Regions from separate parts of the Homo sapiens genome. Here region 2 is linked to region 1. The links come from fine-mapping of genetic effects on gene expression. Tissue or cell type: liver. Region 1 holds a variant in brackets; the other region holds the start of a gene. All regions are shown on one strand. Distances are from middle to middle.

The links. PIP is the estimated chance that this variant, and not a neighbour inherited with it, causes the effect.
Region 2: it holds the start of TMEM121, and the variant in region 1 is fine-mapped to the expression of TMEM121 in liver (GTEx, PIP above 0.99).

Annotation. Positions count from the first base shown.
Region 1 is chr14:105,476,093-105,486,112 of GRCh38, forward strand. CRIP2 (cysteine rich protein 2) reads left to right here. Exons shown (of 8, transcript NM_001312.4): 2 at 2,174-2,268; 3 at 2,358-2,415; 4 at 2,639-2,779; 5 at 2,887-2,955; 6 at 3,033-3,127; 7 at 3,344-3,401; 8 at 3,494-4,070. The coding sequence ends at 3,561. Among named protein-coding and RNA genes, the nearest start is that of CRIP1, 5.8 kb to the right of the region's middle. RefSeq lists enhancers at 4,725-5,446, 5,115-5,224, 6,005-6,324 and a silencer at 4,835-4,984. The variant T/G (reference allele first, on the strand shown) is at 4,596.
Region 2 is chr14:105,522,209-105,532,228 of GRCh38, forward strand. TMEM121 (transmembrane protein 121) reads left to right here and starts at 4,375. Exons shown (of 2, transcript NM_025268.4): 1 at 4,375-4,445; 2 at 6,514-7,990. The coding sequence starts at 6,627. The coding sequence ends at 7,586. It overlaps LOC105370697 (a long non-coding RNA gene), which reads left to right and starts at 9,647. Exons shown (of 2, transcript NR_135205.1): 1 at 9,647-10,020. RefSeq lists a silencer at 6,033-6,242.

The DNA of each region.
Region 1 (10,020 bases):
CGCTCAGCCCTCAGTCTCTGTCCCAGCGAGGGCTGTCTCTGTAAGGCTTAGGGTGGGAGACGGTCCCCAGGGCCCTTCTGCAGTCCAACTGCCCATGACTTTACCCCAGGCCGGGCCAGGCCAGCCTGGGGCTCTCCAGGGTCTCGGCCAACAGTCCTGTGGACAGCCCGGAAAGGCCTGCCTGCCTGGCCCGCCCAGCCTCTCAGCGGAAAACAAAGGCGCTTCAGACCCGGCTGGCTTCTGTCCTGCCTGGGAGGCACTGTGAGGGCGAGGGTCCAGAATCCTGCCCACCCTCACACCAGGCTGCCCCCGCAGCTCATACCTGAGTAGAACCCAGGCTGGGATGTCGGAGCACATTGAGGAGGCCACCCCAGAGCCCATGCAGCCAGGGTGGGCAGCTGGTTTTCTTCTGAGCCATTAGACCCAATCGATTCTGTGTTCCCAACTCGGACCCGTAATGTGTGGCCATTGACCCACCCAGTGGGTCTGAGGGCCAGTTCCCTGCCCCCACTTGGCCCACGTCCCAGAGCTGGCCAGAGCACAGTGCTGGCAGCCCTGGGCTGCAGCTGCCACGGCCGATAGCCACCGAGACTTCCTTGCTGCTGCTGGGACACGCCTGCCCACCGTGCAGCCAGCCCCTGCCTGCCCTGGTGTGTCCCAGCTTCCTTGAGTGGAGTGGTTCTGGTCAGAGGGCTCTAAGCTGGTGCAGCCTTGTGGTTGGGCTGGTGTCCTGGAGGCTGGCCCTGGCCATGCCCAGAGGGTTGTACCAGGGCCACGGAGAGCCAGTATTCACAGCCCTCTACCTAGTAGGCCACCTGGGGGATCCCATCTCACTGCCAGGAGCAGCACCCTTGGGCCTCTCAGAGTGGGCTTCGCCCTAGCCAGATGCCCCTCCCCGATATCTGCCAGACAAAGGGGGCTGGGCCACTTGCTGAGAAAGGGAGCTGGGAGAGCCACTGGTCCTCGGCCACCTGAGGGGCTTGGCCAGATTCTGCCGGGCAGGGTGGGCCCAGCCTGCATGCTCCCTCCCCCCAGGGCCTGCAGCTTGTCCCCTTCCCTTCAGAATTCCGGCTCTGCTGGGCCCTTCCTGCCCCTCCCCACCTCTTCCTGCCTGGCTCCCTAGGGAGGCCCCTGCTTCCATCCACTGGGAAGCAGTCCAGTAGCCCCAGTGTGGGGGTGGGAGGCAGTGGCAGAGGGTCCCGGACCCTCAGCAGCTGCCCTCAGATCTTCCATGCCAGTGGCAGCCAGGGGCATTACGGCGGGGGGAGAGCTCAGGGTTTAGGACGAGGAATCCACAGACAGATGAGGGTCCCGCCTGGAGGACCCACGGGGACGGGGCCTGGCCTTCCCATGAGGGAGCTGGAGGTTCTGGGGCTGCACCTTTGACTCAGCAGCGGGGTGCTGCCAGCCCCATCAGGGCCCAGTTGGTGGGGATCAGGGGCGTGTCAGTGCGAGGCAGGTGTGAGAGGGAGAGCAGCATGTGTTGAAGCAGGTGCACTGCAGAGGCAGGTGTGTGAGTGTAAGAGAAGTGTTTGAGGGAATGACAGGTGGGGGAGATGCATATGTGTGGGGGGAGGCAGGTGTGTGGGGGGAAGCGGGTGTGTGTCTGAGGAAGCGGGTGTGTGTGGGGGGAAGCGGGTGTGTGGAGGCGGGCGTGTGGGGGAGGCGGGTGTGTGTGTGAGAGGAAGGTGTGTGGGAGGAGGCAGATTTGTGGGGGGAGGCGGGCGTGTGGGGGAGGCGGGTGTGAGGCGGGTGTCCGGGAGGCAGGTGTTGGAGCGCGGGCAGGTGTTGGAGCGCGGGCAGGTGTTGGAGCGCGGGCAGGTGTTGGAGCGCGGGCAGGTGTTGGAGCGCGGGCAGGCTCGAGCACAGGCCCCTTCACCGCAGGCACTGAGGGGACTAACAGGGCAGCCCCGGGCCCCTTCTCAAAGGCGGCTCTAGCGGGGTTCCAGGGCTGGGGGCGCTGAGACCCAGAGGGAGAACAGGGCCTGGGGGCGACGGGCTCCTCCGGGTCTCAGAAGGAGGGGCAGGGCCCGCCAGGTGGAAGGAAGGCGCCTGGGAGACCTCCTGAAAGTGGGGACCCCCGGAGCGCGTGGGGGTGGTGGCTGCCAGGTGGGGGCGGAGGGGGTGCGGGGCGCGCCCCGGCCCTGACCCCCCTGCCGCCCCTCCCGCTCAGCCGAGAAGGTGAGCTCCCTGGGGAAGGACTGGCACAAGTTCTGCCTCAAGTGCGAGCGCTGCAGCAAGACGCTGACGCCCGGGGGCCACGCCGAGGTGAGCCCCACTGCGCGGCGCGGGCGGGGGCGGGGGTCGCGACTCCCGCCACCCTCAGGCAGGGTCCTGACCCGCGCCCCTCTGCGCAGCATGACGGGAAGCCGTTCTGCCACAAGCCGTGCTACGCCACCCTGTTCGGACCCAAAGGTGAGCTCCGGCTGCCCTCGGCCTGCCCTGGGACCTGCTGGGAGGGGCGTGGCGCTGGCGCTGGGGAGGGCTGGGGGTCCCGGCCGCCGTGGATCCCCGCCCAGAGTCCCTGCCACCCTGGAAAGCCTAGTGCCCCCCAGTCCCCAGCGGGCCGTTTTCTGAGATGCCCGGTGGCCGCGGCCCCCACCCCACGTACCCCCGCCCCACGTACCCCCACCCGCAGGCGTGAACATCGGGGGCGCGGGCTCCTACATCTACGAGAAGCCCCTGGCGGAGGGGCCGCAGGTCACCGGCCCCATCGAGGTCCCCGCGGCCCGAGCAGAGGAGCGGAAGGCGAGCGGCCCCCCGAAGGGGCCCAGCAGAGGTGGGCTGGGCGCGGGCTGGGGCTGGGGGTTGTGGGCACGCGCGGGCTGGGGCTGGGGGTTGTGGGCACCCCCGGCCCCGCCCCGCCCTGACTCGTGCGCCCCACAGCCTCCAGTGTCACCACTTTCACCGGGGAGCCCAACACGTGCCCGCGCTGCAGCAAGAAGGTGTACTTCGGTGAGTGCGCGCCCGGGCCCCGGACCCCCGCCCCCGCCCCCGCCCCGGGGCTCGGCCTCACTCCTCCCCCTTTCCAGCTGAGAAGGTGACGTCTCTGGGCAAGGATTGGCACCGGCCCTGCCTGCGCTGCGAGCGCTGCGGGAAGACACTGACCCCCGGCGGGCACGCGGAGGTGAGGGGAGTGCAACGGGGCTTGGGGGCCGGGCAGGGGCGCGGGGTCGGGGGGATGAGGGTGAGAGGCGCGCCTAGAGGGGATGGGGGGTGGTGCTTCTGGGAGCTGCGCTGCCCTCTCCCCCACGGCGAGCCGGCCTGCACGTTCTGGAAGCCTCCAGGTGATGGGTCGGGGGAGTCTGTGGACTCCTCCCTCAGCACCCACCTTCTGCCCCAGCACGACGGCCAGCCCTACTGCCACAAGCCCTGCTATGGAATCCTCTTCGGACCCAAGGGTGAGTGTAGCCAGGGTGGTCCACGATGTCTTCCCTGCCCTCCCCTTCCCTCCACTGTTCCCCCGACCCACCCCAGCGGCCTCCCTCCACAGGAGTGAACACCGGTGCGGTGGGCAGCTACATCTATGACCGGGACCCCGAAGGCAAGGTCCAGCCCTAGGCTACAGCGGCTCTCATGATGTGGGCTCACCTGCGCCCCAGACCCTGCAGGGGCCCCCCTGCTTGGCTCTGCTGGGAGAGTGCTCAGCCGCCCAGTCCTGCCTGCAAGCCCAGGGCGAGTATTGGAGGAGGGGCAGCCACGGGCAGAGCACCATGCCCATCCCCGAGTCTCTGGTGTGTCTGCCCCCTCTGGCATCCTCTGGGCGTCCCATGATCCCTTCTGTGTCTGCGTGTCCGAATCCCCGTGTGACCCTGTCCCAGCATTTTCCCGCCGACCCTGCGTGTCCCCGTGGCGCTGTCCGCTCTCCCTCTCCTGCTGCCCACCCACCTGCCAGTGTTATTTATGCTCCCTTCGTGGGTGATGGCCACGCCCTCACCATGTCCCTGGCAGAGGGCTTCCCTCCGGGATCCCCTGCCTGGTGCCCACACTGCCTCGCAAGCGCTCGCCACCCTCACGTGGCTCACCTGCTGTTGAGCCTTGTGCTGTCAATAAACGGTTTGAGGATTGCAGGATTGTCTCTGCTTGTGGGATGGATGCAAATCCCAGACCAGGGTCCCTTTCTCCGGTCCATGCGTGCTCCCAGCCAACACCCCTGGGCCTGGCTGCTAGTGGGGGTGGGCTCTTCTCCTGGGGGTCATAGTGGGAGGTGGGGCCCTGGGATGTTTCTGAGCAGGAGGGAGGGATGGGGGCGGGGAGCGTGGTCTCCGGTTTGGGTGGTGGTGCCCACCCAGATGGGGAGGCAGTAAGAACGCCAGGCTGTGGGGAGGTAAGGAAGGTGGGAGGCATTCCGGGGCCAGGGTCCTGGCCAGGGTCAGGTGAGGGTGGGGTCCATGGAGGACAGAGCCTTGGAGAAAAGTTGAACCTAGAACCCTGAAAATACCAACAGCAGGCCTGAGAACCCGGAGCTGCCTGGGTGTGTGGACCCTGGCAAGCGCAGGAGGGGTCCGCCCTGAGAGCAGAGTGTGGCTGAGGAGGGAAGGGGGCCGGGGACCAGAGGAGGGGTCCTGGGCAGAGAATGGGGAAGCCGGCGAAGG[T/G]CGGGTGGGACAGAGGTCTCTGGCAGCCCCAGACTGGACTGGGATGCGCAGGAGGGTTTGGGGGCTCTGGTCAGAGCAAGGACTGGAGAGGCTCAGCGTGGCTGTTTCCAGCTTTTGTCCATAGGGTGATGGACAGGCTTTTGTGGACAGGCCTGCCTTGGGTGTGGCCCAGGGACAGAATCCCTGCCCAAGTGTTCTGGTGAAGGTTTTAGTGATGACCGACTCGCCCCTGGCGTCTTCATGGTCCAGGCTCTGCCCTTTCAGCCAGGGGCGCTGGCGGCTCCAAGGAGCTCTCCCCTCCCCCGCGCCCCGCCTTTGCTGTGCGCCACTCCTCGGGTGCCCACTAGAGGGCGCACTGTCCCATTCTGGCAGCACAGAGCAGAAACGTGGAGACCTTCCCCAGTGGCTGAGCCCTGTCCTGGCGCCATCTGGACTTCCCACCTTGGTTTATGCTCCTCTGCTCCTGGCACCACACCGAAGTTGCCTTGGCCCTTCCTTCAGTGAGGGGCACTCAGACCTGGCCACCTCCAGGCCCCTGTCCCCAGTGCTACAGGGTGGCCGGGGCTTTACGCCTCTTCCCTGCTCCCAGCCGTTGGCACAGCTCCCTGCCTGGCCACCCTCCAGCCCATGGGCTCAGACGGAGCTGAGCCTGGATGCTGAGCCCATTGTCCCGAGAGCAGCCATCCATGTCCTGGCGGGGCCTGGGCTGGCTCCGGGGTCCAGCCGTACCACAGCTGCCCTCCAGCCAGGCACCCAGTGCGGTCTCCTCCCACCTGGAATTCAGCCAAAACCCCCGGGGCCTGACGTTGCGGAAGGGACGGCCAGTCCCCAACCCCAGGCAGAGGGGAGGATCAGGCAGGTTCCAGACCCCTGCTCACAGGAGAGGCTGGGATGGTTCCCCTTCTCATCCCCTCCTGCCAGGCCCAGGCTTCCTTGTGTGTGTTGGGGGGTTGTTTCGGGAGAACTGAGAATTTCCGGAGTGCCCGTCTCCGCCCTTGCTGCGGGCTCCCAGGGTTGCATGGGAAATTCCTGCTTTCAGCTTGGCGGGGCGGGGGGCGGGGGGGGGACTGGAGGGCTCAGCTGGACCCCCCTCCCTTGGGAGCCTCCAGTGGAAACTATGTCGTGAGGAGAGTGGTGGGTGGTGTGCCCTTCTCTAAAACCTGGGCGGCGGTGGGGGATTTGTGTGCCAGAAGACCTTCCAGGGTCGGTTGCGGGGATGATGTGGGTAAGGGGTCTCCTCCAGAGATCAGCCCCTGACCCCGCCAGGGACAGCAGCACCCCCGACCCCAGGTCTGGCTGGGGCAGGACCATTTCCTGCGGGGCCGGTTTGAGGATGACGCCTGCCTGCCGTGTTTGTTTCCAAGTCATTGTCATGGAAACCGGGGCGGTTGTTGCTACTGTTTGTCTGGACTGCGTCGCTAGGCGGTGTTGCTGGGGTTGGCTGGGTGCCCACGGCACTAACAGGGCTCGCTTGGTGTCTCCAGCTCCAGGAAGCTATGCCCTCCCAGCCGCCTGCCAGCCAGGTGCTCCCTTGGGTGCCCACAGACCCAGATATCCCCTAAAAGGGAGGGGAATCTGGAATGGGCTCTTCTGCCTTTGGGCGTGCCTGCTTCTCTGTCCCTGCCTTGGGGGCTGCTCTGCCCTCAACCTTCACTCTCTTCTACTTGGACCTATGCCTGGCCAGTGAGGCGGCTCTGAAATGCTATCTGCTCCATCCCTCCCCTTCAGAACCCCTGGGAACCAAGTCCAGGGATCCACAAGGCCCTGGTGCCCCATGGGGCTAAGCTCACACCCCGGCGCTCTGTTGAACCGAGCTGTGCCGCTCCCCGTCTGTACCCCCACTGTCCAGTCTTCCCGTGTCTCCTGGCCAGGTCCCTCCAAGGTATCCCCCACTCCAACCTGGGCTGGTGGGGCCCTCACTGGTGCCCCCAGCCAGGCATCTTTGTGGGGCCAGCTCAGCCTGCAGCTACCCCTGTCTCCACTTCTTCTGGCCCCTGCCCGGGACCCCCAGCACCCTTCCTCCAGGCCCTGCCCAGCCAGTGACCGCAGCATCGGCCCTGGGTACCCCTGCTCCCAGGGTCTTCCCTAATTCCTGGACCCCTTCGGACTCCACACAGCTGGGACTAGCGCCCCTGACCCTGACCCTCCACAGGACTTGGTGGGGCACACCTCCCTCCCGGCCCTGGGTCCAGCTTATTGGGGGCCGGCGGTAGCCTGAGAGGTGGATGTGAGGAAATCACCCAGTGCCGTGGGCCCCTAGCTCTGGACCGTGGAGGGCTGGGCACAGGCAAGGGCAGGCTGGAGGACCAGGACGGCCAGGTATGGGCAGCACTTTTCCCAGCGCCTGATGGGCTTCCGGTGGGGATGTGGGGTCCAGCTGCCAGGCGGGGAGGCTGGAATTCCAGCCTCTGGAATTCCTGGGCTATGGCTGTAGGATGCTGGGTACTAGGCCCAGCCTCAAGAGAGGGGAGGGAGGTCAGGGGCACCCCATCTGGCCAGTCTGTGGAAGCCAGGCAGGGGTGCAGCCCCGCTGGGGGCAGGGCTGGCTGAGGGAGCCCCCTTCTTCCCTCTTTCCACACCTTGCCACGTCTGCTCTGGGAGAGGAGGAACTGCGCAGCCTTCCCACCTGCTCGGGGCTGGAGGTGAGGCCTGGAGGACAGGAGGTGCCTGTCTGGTAAGCCTGTCCCATGCCAGCCCCATGCCAGGTCTGCCCAGGGCAGGAATGGCCACTGAGCCCAGCACGGCCAACCGGGGCCAGACCACAGGCCAGACAGGGGGTCCCGGGAGACAAGCAGCTGAAAATAGACCCTGGGAACTTGGGAGTGTCTGAGACTCAGCTGGGCCGAGAGGGAGGGGCAGGGAGGTGGGCCCTGGGGAGGCCTGAGCTGGGCGTGGCCGGCTCCGCGCTGTCCTGGCATGCATGTTGGCAGTGCAGGGCACCTGGTTGCAGAGCATCCAGGACAGGCCTGGCTGGCCTGCAGCCCCGGGAGGGCACCTCACACCTGCCCACACTCTCAGCCTGGGCATGGGGCAAGGGGAGGTGGTGGGGAGGGCTCCAAGGACAAGGAGGGGCATCTCAAGGCAAGTCCCCAAGCTGAGTCTGCAGAGGAAGGGGCTGTGGGCCCAGAGGAGCAAAATGTTCCTAGAGGGGTGGACGGTGGGATTCCTCAGGGACAGTGGGGCCCAGCCCTGCCTCCTGGGTTACCCTGGTTCCTGGAGCCCAGGCCTGGCTGCAGGCTGCCGCACCCCAGCCCCTGTGGGCTTCAGCCAGAGGGCCAGCAGGAGCAGGCCAGGGCGCAGGGATGTGTGCAGAGGGCGGGCTGAGCAGACAGAGGCGGCCTCCAAGATGCACCCGGAACACTGCAGCAGCCCCCGCCACCCCCGGGTCTAGGGCCCTCTTGCTGTCCAGGTGCAGGGTGGAATGTTCTGGGCATAGAGGCAGCCTGGGGCGAGCAGCTGCGGAGCTCCGAGTCCCTGCCCCGACCACTCTGTCCTCTGTTTGTTCCTGAAACAAATGCCACCAGCACCCTGCAGAGTGGGCTGAGAGGTACAGGGGCTGGGGTTTCCAGCCAGCCCAGTGGGCCTGAGTCAGGCTGGCCCCATGGACGAGGTCAGTGCCCTGTCCTAGGTGCATCCCCGGCCAGGTGAGAGCTGACAAAGCCTGAGGCCTAGTGACTGGGCTGGGGCTGGTCGGGGGCAGTGTGTCCCGGAAGCCGGCAGGACCCTGACCTGCTCAGATGGAGGTGGGCGTTGGGGGTGGGATGGCCTGAACACGGAGTGTGGGTGGAGAAAGGAGCTGGAAGCTGGGGTCCTGCAGCTGATGAGGGGTCCCCACCCCCAGAGCACAGGGTAGATGGGGAGCACAGGAGAAAGGGGGTCTGAGGGGCATGTCAGTCTGTGGCTGAAGTTTAGGAAGGGTTCCAGGGATCGTGTGTATGTGACTGTGTGTGTGTCTCTGTGTTATGTCTGTGTCAGTGAGGGTGTGCGTGTGTATCTGTGCATGTGTCTGTGTGTATCTGTGAGTGTGGGTGTCTGAGTTGAGTGGAAAAACTGCTGTGAGCCAACACAGAAGGCGTGGCCCCACGGCGAGGGCATCCTGCCCCCCACCCCACCCGTGACCATGGTGACAGGAAGCAACAGCAGGGAAGGCCAGGAATGGACTCATCACCCTGGTTTTCAAGGAGGGGCTCCTCCATGGGCAGGGTGGGTTGGAGTCCAGAGTGTGGGGGAAGGGACCATCCCTGGGGGCGGGTAGAGGGGAGGACAAGGACTGGGTCATTGTCCCTATCTGCCCTGGCTAATGTCCGTACATGAGCTGCAAGGTACCGGGCCAGGAGCTGGGATGGGCTGGGGAGGAGGCTTGACAGAAATATGGGCGGACAACTGCGAGAGGGACCACACACATGCTCGCGGGGACCCCAGAGACCCCTGATGGACACACCCATACGGGTATGTCCACGGGCACCAGGCACACACGTGTGCATCAGGCACTTGCCCTGCACCTCTGCACCCGGAGCACGTCATCCTGGTGGGGGTGTGGACAGCGGTGCTGGGCACCCTGGGGCTTGGGGGCAGCGCACGCCCCAGGGAAAGTGCAGTGACAGAGCCCCCGGCCTCCCCAATACTGTCCGGGCTCCCCTGGCCTCTCCCCCTTCTTGGTGCCTCTGCCTCTCCCTCTGCTTGTCTGCAGGTTTGTCCCACGATGCCCCACACTCAGTGGAGATGGCAGGTGGGCCCAGACCTCAGAGTGGGTTTCAAGGCTCATGGGCTGGAGAGTGGGGGTTCCAAGTTTGCAGGACAGGAGCGCACCCCTACTCTGGAAACCTTATCTCTGAGGTCTCAGAATGGGGGATGAGGAGGGCTCCAATGGGCCCCTGTGGAATGTCCTATCAGACCCCAGGACTTAGCCCCAGTCGGGGGACAGAACTGTGGCCTTAGAGGGGCGCCAGGAGGAGGGCAAGCAGGATGTGGCCTTGGGCTGGGTGTGCTGGTGTGGGGCTCTCTGGAGTGTGGCCTCTGTGCCAGACGCCTGTGCCTTGGCCGTCCTACAGCCCTGCTGCCCCTGCCCTCTCCCCAAGCTGGGGACTGGTGGCAGACAGGGCAGGGCAGGCGGCTTCTCTTCCTCTAAGTGCAGGCCTCGAGGTGCCGACAGGGGTGCGGTAGGATTCAGGGAAAGTGAGGTTGGGATCACAGGTGCAGTTAGGGCTCAGGGCCCGACAGCGGTAGGCCAGCGGCTCCTGGGGCCCAGGAGGATGGTCTCCAGCGCCCCCAGCGGGGACAGGGCCAGCACAGGCCCAGTGGAGATCGAGGGGAGATAAGGACGCTGGTTAACATGGCTGACAGGAGGGATGGTGGGTGGGGAGGAAGGGCAGCACCGCCCTTGTGCTGTGGGAGCTCCCAGGGAGCTCCATGCAGCATGGAGGTG
Region 2 (10,020 bases), 46 kb after region 1:
TCTCCTGCCTGGCCTCCCAAAGCGCTGGGATTACAGGAGTGAGCCACTGTGCCTGGCTGAATTGTACACTTTATTTATTTATTTATTTATTTTGAGACAGAGTCTTGCTCTGTTGCCCAGGCTGGCGTGCAGTGGCATGATCTCGGCTCACTGCAACCTCCGTCTCCTGGGTTCAAGCGATTCTCTTGCCTTAGCCTCCCAAGTAGCTGGGACTACAGGCGTGGGTCATCACGCCTGGCTAATTTTTGTGTGTGTGTGTGTGTGTGTTTTTAGTAGAGGTGAGGTTTCACCGTGTTGGCCAGGCTGGTCTTGAACTCCTGACCTCAGGTGATCACCTGCCTCGGCCTCCCAAGGTGCTGGGATTACAAGTGTGAGCCACTGCGCCTGGCCTGAATTGTACCCTTTAAATGGATGAATTTTATGGTATTTGAATTATATTTCAATAAATCTGTTAAAGAATCAATGGCCATGCTTGTGTGGGTGCACTTGTTCCATTGATCTGTCGGCTGACCCTCTGCCAATTCAGCCTGTCTCAATTGCTTTAGCTTTATGGTGAGTTAACATCCATTAGTGATGGCTGGGCACGGTGGCTCACACCTGTAATCCCAGCACTTTGGGAGGCTGAGGTGGGTGGATCACGAGGTCAGGAGATCGAGATCATCTTGGCTAACACAGTGAAACTCCGTCTCTACTAAAAATACAAAAAATTAGCCGGGCGTGGTGGCGGCCGCCTGTAGTCCCAGCTACTCGGGAGGCTGAGGCAGGAGAATGGCATGAACCCAGGAGGCAGAGCTTCCAGTGAGCCAAGATCATGCCACTGCACTCCAGCCTGGGCTACAGAGCGAGACTCAGTCTCAAAAAAAAAAAAAACCCAAAAAAACAAAAACAACAACAACAAAAACATCCATTCGTGAGAACCCTCCAACTTTTTCCCTTCTTTTTCAGAATTATTTTGGCAACTAGTTGCTTTTCATTTCTATATACATTTCAGAACAAGGTTTTCTATACCTATAAAATTTCCGACAGGAATTTTAATTGAAATTGCATTAAATCCGTAGTCGTTTTGGAGAGAATTGGTATCTTAACTATATTTGTTCTAATTCAGGAACACAGCATGCCTCTCACATATTTAGGCCTTCTTTGATTTCTTTTATCAGCATTTGGTAGTTTTCAGTATACAAATCCTGTACCAGTCTTGTTAGATTAATACCAAACGAATAAATTTACTGGGGGACCATTTTAAATAGCATTGCTTTTAAAAATTTTGGTTTTCAATTGTTCATTGCTAATATATAGAAACAGGACTGAGTTCTGTGTTTTCATCCTGCAACCTTGCAAAACTCACTTATTAGTATTCTGACTTTTTTGTTGGTAAAATTCTTGGGATTTTCGACATAGACTTTTATGTTATTTATGGATAGGGACATCTTTATTTCTTCCTTTCTAATCTGTATGCCTTTTATTTTTCTGGTTTTATTGCATGGGTTAGGACTGCCAGTACACTGTGGAACAGGAGTGAATAGAGTGGACATCTTTACCTTGTTCCTGATCTTAGGGCTCAGCATTTAGTCCTTCATTATTAAGTATCACATTAGATGCAGAGGTTTTTTTTTTTTTTTTTTTTCTTTTTTGGACAGGGTCTTCCTCTGTTGCCCACACTGGAGTGCAGTGGTGCGATCTTAGTTCACTGCAACCTCTGCCTCCCAAGTTCAAGCGATTCTCATGCCTCAGCCTCCTGAGTAGCTGGGATTACAGGTGTGTGTCACTGTACCCTGCTAATGTGTGTGTGTGTGTGTGTGTGTTTTAAGTAGAGATGGTGTTTCGCCATGTTGCCCAGGCTGGCATAGAACTCCTGAGCTCAGGTGATCTGCCTGCCTTGGCCTCCCAAAGTGCTGGGATTACAGGCGTGAGCCACCACATCCGGCCAGATTGTTTTGTATTTTTTGTAGAGACAGGGTTTCACCATGTTTCCCAGGCTGGTCTTGAACTCAAGCTCAAGCAATCCGCCCACTTTGGCCTCCCAAAATGCTGGTATTAGAGGCATGAGCCACAGTGCCTGGCCTAATTTTTTTTTTAATTAAAAATAACAGATATGGAATCTCTCCATGTTGCCCGGGCTGGTCTTGAACTCCTGGCCTCCCAAAATGTTGAGATTGCAGGGGTGAGCCACCATGCCTGGCCTGTTGTTTTTGTTGTTGCTTTTTGTAGATTCCTTTTATGAGATTAAGCATGTTCCCTTTGCTTTCTAGTTTGCTGAGAGTGTTTATCAGGGATGAGTGTTGAATTCCGTCAAATACTTTCTTTGAATTGATTGAGATGATCACATGGTTTTCTTCTTGAGACTAATATGGTGGATCACATCGATTTATTTTCACATGTTGAACCAGCCTTGCCTTTCTGGGATAGCCTCCATTTGGTTGGGGTATTTGTGTGTGTGTGTTTTTAATGCTGCTTGATTCTATTTGCTGATAATTAGTTGAGGGTTTTTGTGTCATGTTGGCATTGGCGGCTGTTGATTGTCTTTTCTCTTGCAGGTTGGATTTCCTGATTCTTCACATGCAGAGTAATTTTAGATTGTCTCCTGCACATTTAGACATTATGTTATGAGACTGGTCTTATTTAAATCCCATTGAGAATGTTGGCATTTTGTTTTATCATGCAATCAACCTAGTTGGTTTCAGGCCACAAGTTCAAATAGGCTCCTGTGGGTCCTGCCTTCCATGTCGGTTTTGTTTTCAAAGCCTTTGCAGTGGGACTCAGATCTGTCCTTCGTATGCACTGCCCAGTGGCCAGTGTGGGACGTGGGCAGTGGGCTGTCCTTTTGTTCAGTTCTCAGCCTTTGGGATGTGAATGAGGGTTTAGACTTGTACATCATGTATGGCTTGCACAACTTCCTGGGGTTGCTTTTTTTTTTTTTTTTTTTTTGAGACAGAGTCTCACTCTGTTGCCCAGGCTGGAGTGCAGTGGCAAGATCTCGGCTCACTGCAACCTCCATCTCCCGGACTCAAGCAATTCTCCTGCTTCAGCCTCCCGAGTAGCTGGGATTACAGGTGTGTGCCACCACGCCCGGCTAATTTTTATATTTTTAGTAGAGATGGGGGTTTCACCATGTTGGCCAGGCTGGTCTCGAACTCCCGACCTCAGGTAATCCGCCCACATCGGCCTCCCAAAGTGCTGGAATTACAGGTGTGAGCCACCACGCCCAGCCCATGGATTGCTTTCTACTGCTTCTCCCTGCCCACCATCTCTCCAGCGACAGGGGACCACATCTCCTGGGGCTGGAAAGGAAGGCTCTTCTGCCTCAGCGTTTTAGGTGCTTGTAAACCCTATGCCTTGGTCATGGCTTTGGTGGGATACCTAGGGGCTGGGGCATCAGAGAATGGAGAAGAGTAAAAAAACAACCACTACCAAAAAACCCCATCCTCCCAAACCCTAACATCCCCCCGGGCATTCTCCTGCACCCTGGGAGCATTAGGCGACCTTTTTCTTTCCTCCCCTTGTGCCAGGACTAGAGAACTTCTGGAGCTCTCTGTCCTCTTCTGGCTTTCAGGCCGTGTTGAGTCCAGGCCCGGGGATACGGGAAGAGAATCTGGAAGTTCACTACCAGTTGGGTGGTGCCTCAAATTCTGGTCTTTCCACCAAATCTGGTGTCCCTTTACCTCTCTGACCCTCAGTCTCCTCCTATGTCAGAGGGAAGTCACAGCAGTTCTGGGAAGGAGGGCAGGCAGGCAGAAGGTGCCCTCGGGTTCTTCTCTGGCTCACACGGGATGGACAGGATGTGGGGGGAGGGGCTTAGTGCCACCTCAGTGACAAAATGAAGCCCAAGTCCCCAAACCCTAGCTTGCCTCCTGGACGGGCTGGAGAAGAAGGTGGGGGCCGCTCATCATTCCTTTCCTCTGCCCTGAGAAGAAACCTGGGAAGGCTGGGTTTCTCCCCAAAGAGGACAGAGGGTGGCGCGGAGGGCCCCGGCGGCCAGGCCAGCCCCGCGCCTACATCCCTGTCAGCTCCTGGGCCGGTGGGCGCCTGTCCGGCTGAGTGGGGTCGCTCTAGGGGGCGGCAGCGGAGTTTCAGGGCGCGGGGGGCACTGGGCGGGACCCTGGGATTCTGGGCGGTGGGTGAGGAGGGTGGAGACGGGACTCCGCGCCTGGGGGTGCGCGAGGGCGCCCCGCTCCCCAGAGCCACCAGTCCTGCGCGCCGCCGCGCGGTGCTGTCGCCGTGGCAACCGGCGCTGCGGAGGGGGCGGGGCACCGGCACCCCCGCGCTCCCAGGTCCCCAGGTCCGGCGGGGCTCGCGGGCCGAGGGGCGCGGGGCGGGGCCTCTGGGTCGGGGGCGGTGCCGCGCGGGCGGGGGAGGGGCGCGGCGGGAGGAGCCGGCGCGGCCCCGGCAGTGGCGGCAGAGGCTGGGCGGGCGGGCCCGGGAGCGGCGCAGCATCTGCGGGCGGCGGGGTAGGCGCGGGCGCGGGCGGGACTGGCTGGGTGCGCGGCTGCGTCCGCGGAGGGGGCGGCGGGCCTGGGCGACCCTGCACCTCTGGGCCGTGGGGACTGTGGGGTGGGGCGGGGGCCGATGCGGCAGGGGTGAGGCCTGGGGCCGGCGGGGTGACGGGGACCCGGCCCTGCGTGGGGAAGCCTCGGGGGGACAAGCAGAGACGCAGCCTGCTGGGAGCGGCCCAAGCTCTGCACCGGCCCGCGGCGGGAGCACAGCAGCCCCCTCCCGCCCCTCCTCCCGGGGGCTCCGAGGGGTGGTTATGGGGCGAGGGTCCTTGCGGGGCCCGGGCAGTGAAGGGCCTGGAGGCCCCAGAGTCTGTGCCAGGTCTGAGCCGCGGGGCGTGGGGGGAGGAGGGGCCTCGGCCGGGGCCCAGGAGACCCAGGACAGGTGGGCCTGGGGCCAGGTCCCTACGGAGAGGTGGCCGGGCCGGGCTCTGGCTTGCCGGGGTAGGGGCTCCGCTAGGGGCTGGAGTCCGTCCCTTCGCCAGCGCAGAGCCCCTCGGCCCGCATCTGCCAAGTGACTGAGGATCGAGCGACAGCGTAGTGGGGCGGAGGGGCTGGAGGCACGGCCGGAAAGGGTGAGCGGCGCCGTGGCTCCCCCGCTATTTATTTGGCCCCGCCACGCGCGGAGAGGGAGGAAATTCTCAGGCTGCGGCTGCAGCTAGGGGAGGCCCAGGTGGGCCTGGAATGGGCCCAGAGAGGGCTTCCTGGGTCAGACGTGTAGATCCAGTGGACGTGAAAACCGGGTGAGTGTCCCGGTGGGACCCAGAGCGCGGGGAGGCTTGGAGGCAGGGGCATGGGCTGAGGACCCTCAAGGCACCCTCCTCGCGACCTGTCAGAGCTCCGAGGGGTGGGGGTGTCCTGTGTGTGGCTGTGGGGATCCTGGGCGGCGGGTGCTGGGTGGGGGCAGGGGTGGGAGTGCAGAGTTCAACGCTTTCCCGGATCGGTGGGGCCTGCGGTGTCACCAGGGCAGTCCGAGCGCCCGACTGTCACGGGGACATTAAATTTTATGCCTTTGTCTAGACACGGCAGTAAACGGAGCCCCAGGCCTGGGGCTGTGGAGGGGGTGAGGGGCTGGCTGGGAGTAAGCCTGTCAGTGACTTTGGGGTGGGTGCGGGTGTGCGGGCCTCCATTGTCACCCAGGTGTGCACAGGCCCAGGTGCGGGGACTCCGACAGCACGGCCATGAGGACCAGTGCCAGGTGTGTGACAGAGGTGCAGGGGCCTGTGGAAGCCCGACGGGCCTTGGTGGACGGGCTTCCCGAGATTCGAGGGCAGCCACAGGCATCGCCCTGGCGCAGAGGAGCAAAGCAGGGTGGCTCTGCCGGGGCAGAGGGTGGGGGACAACACCTCGCCAAGGCAATGCGGAGCCATGGGGAGCAGGGCAGGCAGTGGCCACGCGCCCAGGATGGTGGACAGGAGGGGAGACCGAGCCTGCCCGTGCAGGGAGGAGGGGCGTGGGGGCTGCCGGGCAGGGGCGGGGAGGCTCGGAGAGGCTTGTGGGACGGATGCATCGGGACCTGGGTGGCTCTCGGTCCGGGATCAGAAAGCCTGGGAGGGCCGAGGCCTCCTTGGGTACTCCAAGAGCGGAGGGGCAGGCCCGCCTCCCTGCCCAGTGCGGCGGCGGGGAGAGGGTATTCCCGGAACTCCGCGGAAACGGCCTGAGGCCAGCAGCGCGGGCGTGGGGTCCGGGCCGCCGGAGCCAGGAGGGAGGGCGGCGCGGGCCCAGCAGTGACAAACCCCCCCGGGCTCCGGGAACGAGCTCGGCGGGCAGAAAACGCGTCCGTTCCGTTTCCTTCCTGGCGGCGGGAACGAGGCCCGGGTGCTCTGGCGAGGCAGCAGCGCCCTCTGGAGGCCTCGCTGTGGTTCGCGGCCGCCGGTTCGCGCATGGGCGCAGGCGTGCGCGATGCCTCGGGGCCCCGGCGCGGAGACCGCGCCTGGTGGGAAGCACGCGGGGTGCGGGGGGCGGGGGGTGTTGGGGGAGGCCGCTCCAGCCCGCACCCTGATCTTGTCTCCTCCGGTCTCCCCAGGTTTCGAGCTCGCCGGGCCGTGTCGCGCCATGCCCGCTGGCTGAGCGCCGCAGGGCCTCGTCCCGCCAGGCGTGGGGGCCGCGCGCGCCCAGGCCGGGGCCCGGCGGCCGACCATGGTGCTGCCGCCCCCGGACCGGCGCCACGTGTGCCTGACCACGCTGGTGATCATGGGCAGCATGGCCGTCATGGACGCGTACCTGGTGGAGCAGAACCAGGGCCCGCGCAAGATCGGCGTGTGCATCATCGTGCTGGTGGGCGACGTGTGCTTCCTGCTGGTGCTGCGCTACGTGGCCGTGTGGGTGGGCGCCGAGGTGCGCACGGCCAAGCGCGGCTACGCCATGATCCTGTGGTTCCTTTACATCTTCGTGCTGGAGATCAAGCTCTACTTCATCTTCCAGAACTACAAGGCGGCGCGGCGCGGCGCGGCGGACCCCGTGGCGCGCAAGGCGCTGACGCTGCTGCTGTCTGTGTGTGTGCCCGGCCTGTTCCTGCTGCTCGTGGCGCTGGACCGCATGGAGTACGTGCGCACCTTCCGCAAGCGCGAGGACCTGCGCGGCCGCCTGTTTTGGGTGGCGCTGGACCTGCTGGACCTGCTGGACATGCAGGCCAGCCTGTGGGAGCCGCCGCGCTCCGGGCTGCCGCTGTGGGCCGAGGGCCTCACCTTCTTCTACTGCTACATGCTGCTGCTGGTGCTGCCGTGCGTGGCGCTCAGCGAGGTCAGCATGCAGGGCGAGCACATAGCGCCGCAGAAGATGATGCTGTACCCGGTGCTCAGCCTCGCCACCGTCAATGTGGTGGCCGTGCTGGCGCGCGCCGCCAACATGGCGCTGTTCCGGGACAGCCGTGTCTCGGCCATCTTCGTCGGCAAAAACGTGGTGGCGCTCGCCACCAAGGCCTGCACCTTCCTGGAGTACCGCCGCCAGGTGCGCGACTTCCCGCCGCCTGCGCTATCACTGGAGCTGCAGCCGCCACCCCCGCAGCGCAACTCGGTGCCGCCGCCGCCGCCGCCGCTGCACGGCCCGCCTGGGCGCCCCCACATGTCCTCGCCCACGCGTGACCCCCTGGACACGTGACAGGGCCCGCGCGGCCCCCGACACGCCCCTGGGGCGCAGAGACACCGGGTTGGCTTGGGGCGCGCGGTTTGCATGGGATGGGGTGGGGGCGGGCTCCCCTAGGGACAGGTGCCTCGAGTGCCCGTGCCTGGGGTCCCGCGGCCGCTTCTTCATCTCAGGAATCTCTCGGACCGCGGATCCTCAGCCCCCGCTCCACCAGCCCGCCCCAGCGCGTGGGTCTGTTTGGGAGGCCTGGGCCGGAGCAGAGCAGAGGTGATCCGGCCCCTGCCTGCTGGGCCGCCCGGGTTGGAAGGGAGGGCAGTGTGGGCGGAGATCTGCTCCTTCGGTGGGGGCCTCTGGCTCAGATTTGGGGCCAAGGAGGCCTCTGTCATTTTAAAGACTCGTGTTTACAGTTTTGTATCCAAGGCCGCACTGCTTTGCCTGTTCCTGTGTCCCTGTGTTTACCAGCCAGGCTGGGAGGCGGGGAGCCAGGAGGGGTGTGTGGAGGGCGGGGGAGATGGTGGCGTCCAAGTGCCGGATGCTGGTGAGGCTGGGCCGCTCCACTTCCTCCGGGGCTCTCAGGAGCTCCTGGGGGCCACTGCCGCTCTGTCCCAGGGACAGCTCCTCCACTCCAGCTTCGGTGTTCCCAATTATCTTCCTGGGATACCTTGACCCCCATCTTCCCCCAGCACCGTAGGTGTCCTGGCCCCTGCTCCCCTCAACCTCAGGCATGACAGTGTCTCCCACATCCCTGGTTTCCTTCTCCCCCACCGTGGAACCTACCTTCCCTGTGGGCTCCTCCAGCCCAGGACAGCCACAGCCAGATGGAATCAGGGTGTTCCCAAGTTGATGTGGCAGCCCCAGGTCGCAGCCCCAGGAGCAGCACGGAGCCTGGCCCCACCTTACCATCCTGGCCTTGCCCCAGCACGGGAGCTGGCAGCCCCTGGCACAGGCAGCACCCGCCCTGAAGCCCATCTGCAAGGGGTCTCTCACCTGCCTTCCACCTGGGACCCTGTACCTGTGATGTGGCCCTGGGTATCCACCTGGCCTGGGAAGGTCCGTAGCATCTGGGGAGGGGCCCTTTATGAGGCTGCTAAAAGAATTGTTTGAGGATGCCCGCTCCATGAGCGGGTGATGGTCACACACATCTCATGTGGCACAGTTCACTGCCTGGGCCTTCGCTTCCCGCATTTCCACGGCCCAAAGGTGGCAAGGTTTAGCCAGCCAGGGCTAAAACCATCGAGGGGAGTGGAGCTGGCTGCTCAAGTGGGGTCCTCCCCAAGTGCATTTCCCAACAACTGCAGCAGTTAAGGGCGTGGCTGGTGGCAGCCCCAGCCGCACCCCGACCCCACACAGTCCTCATACCCCAGCTCCAGGCCACCTGGGGTCTGGCCTTTGAAAGTCGCCTGCCTTCCAGGCAGCTGGCCTCGGGACCACTGTCCTCAGGGTCCCGGGCAGGGGGACTACCTCGCTGTCCAGGTCAGACGTGGCCGGCGCTCTGCCCACCTCTAAAACCGTGCCTTGGCCCCGGCCTCCGATCATATCCCCAGCAGCCCCTCCAAGCGCCGAGCGCCGTGGGTGGGCACGGGGCGCTGGCCTGGGTAGGAGGTCAGAGGCGCCCTGCTCTGGGCTGTGCCCAGGCCACTAATGATCGTGTTGGGAAGTGGAAGGTCTGCAGGATCAAGGGGGCTGGGGGGCCGGGGAGGGGCGGTGATGAGCAGCCGTGGAAAGGCCCCAGGCCTGGCATGGAGAGAGAAGAGGGGCTGTGGGAGTTGCGTGGGCCAGTGGGAGGACCTGGGCCTTCTTGGGAGGGAGTGGTCTGGAGTGGGGGGTAGTGGGTGAGGGGCGAGCTTCATTCTGCCTGTCTGGGCTGGAGCCTGTTTCCTCCCCTGGCTGAAGCCAGTGCCGGCCCCATCCTGCCTTAAGGGTCTCCTGGGTGAAGACGAGCCCACAATCATCTTGGCTCTGGCACCTGCAGCAAATCCCATGGGAACAGACAGGCAGCGTGGCCATGGGTGAATGGAGCTGAGGGGCTCTGGGCTCCTGACATCCTGCTCTGACCCTTCCTGAAAGCCCATGGTCTCTTCCATGCTGGCTGCAGTCTGGGAGGCGTTGGGCCCAGCTTGGCCTGTGAAAGCTGAAAGCCCACACCCCCTAGTCAGAGGCTGGTTTAGCTACTCCCCTAGTTTAGCTACTCTTGGGGCAGTGAAGGCCCTGGGGCTCGAAGACCTCCCCAGGCAACCTTACCCTGCACACACCCCACTCCTCCTGGCCTGTTCAGGGGTGGTCCCTGGTCTCCGTGCTCCTTGGCACAGGCCAGTGCCCTCTACCTCTGCCACCACATCCCTGGCAGTGGAGGTCCAAGTCCTGGCTGTCCCCCCTCTCACCAGTGGGGCCAGGGATCCTGGCTCTACCCGCTATGACTTGGTTCAATGGCCCATCGCCTCTGCAACTG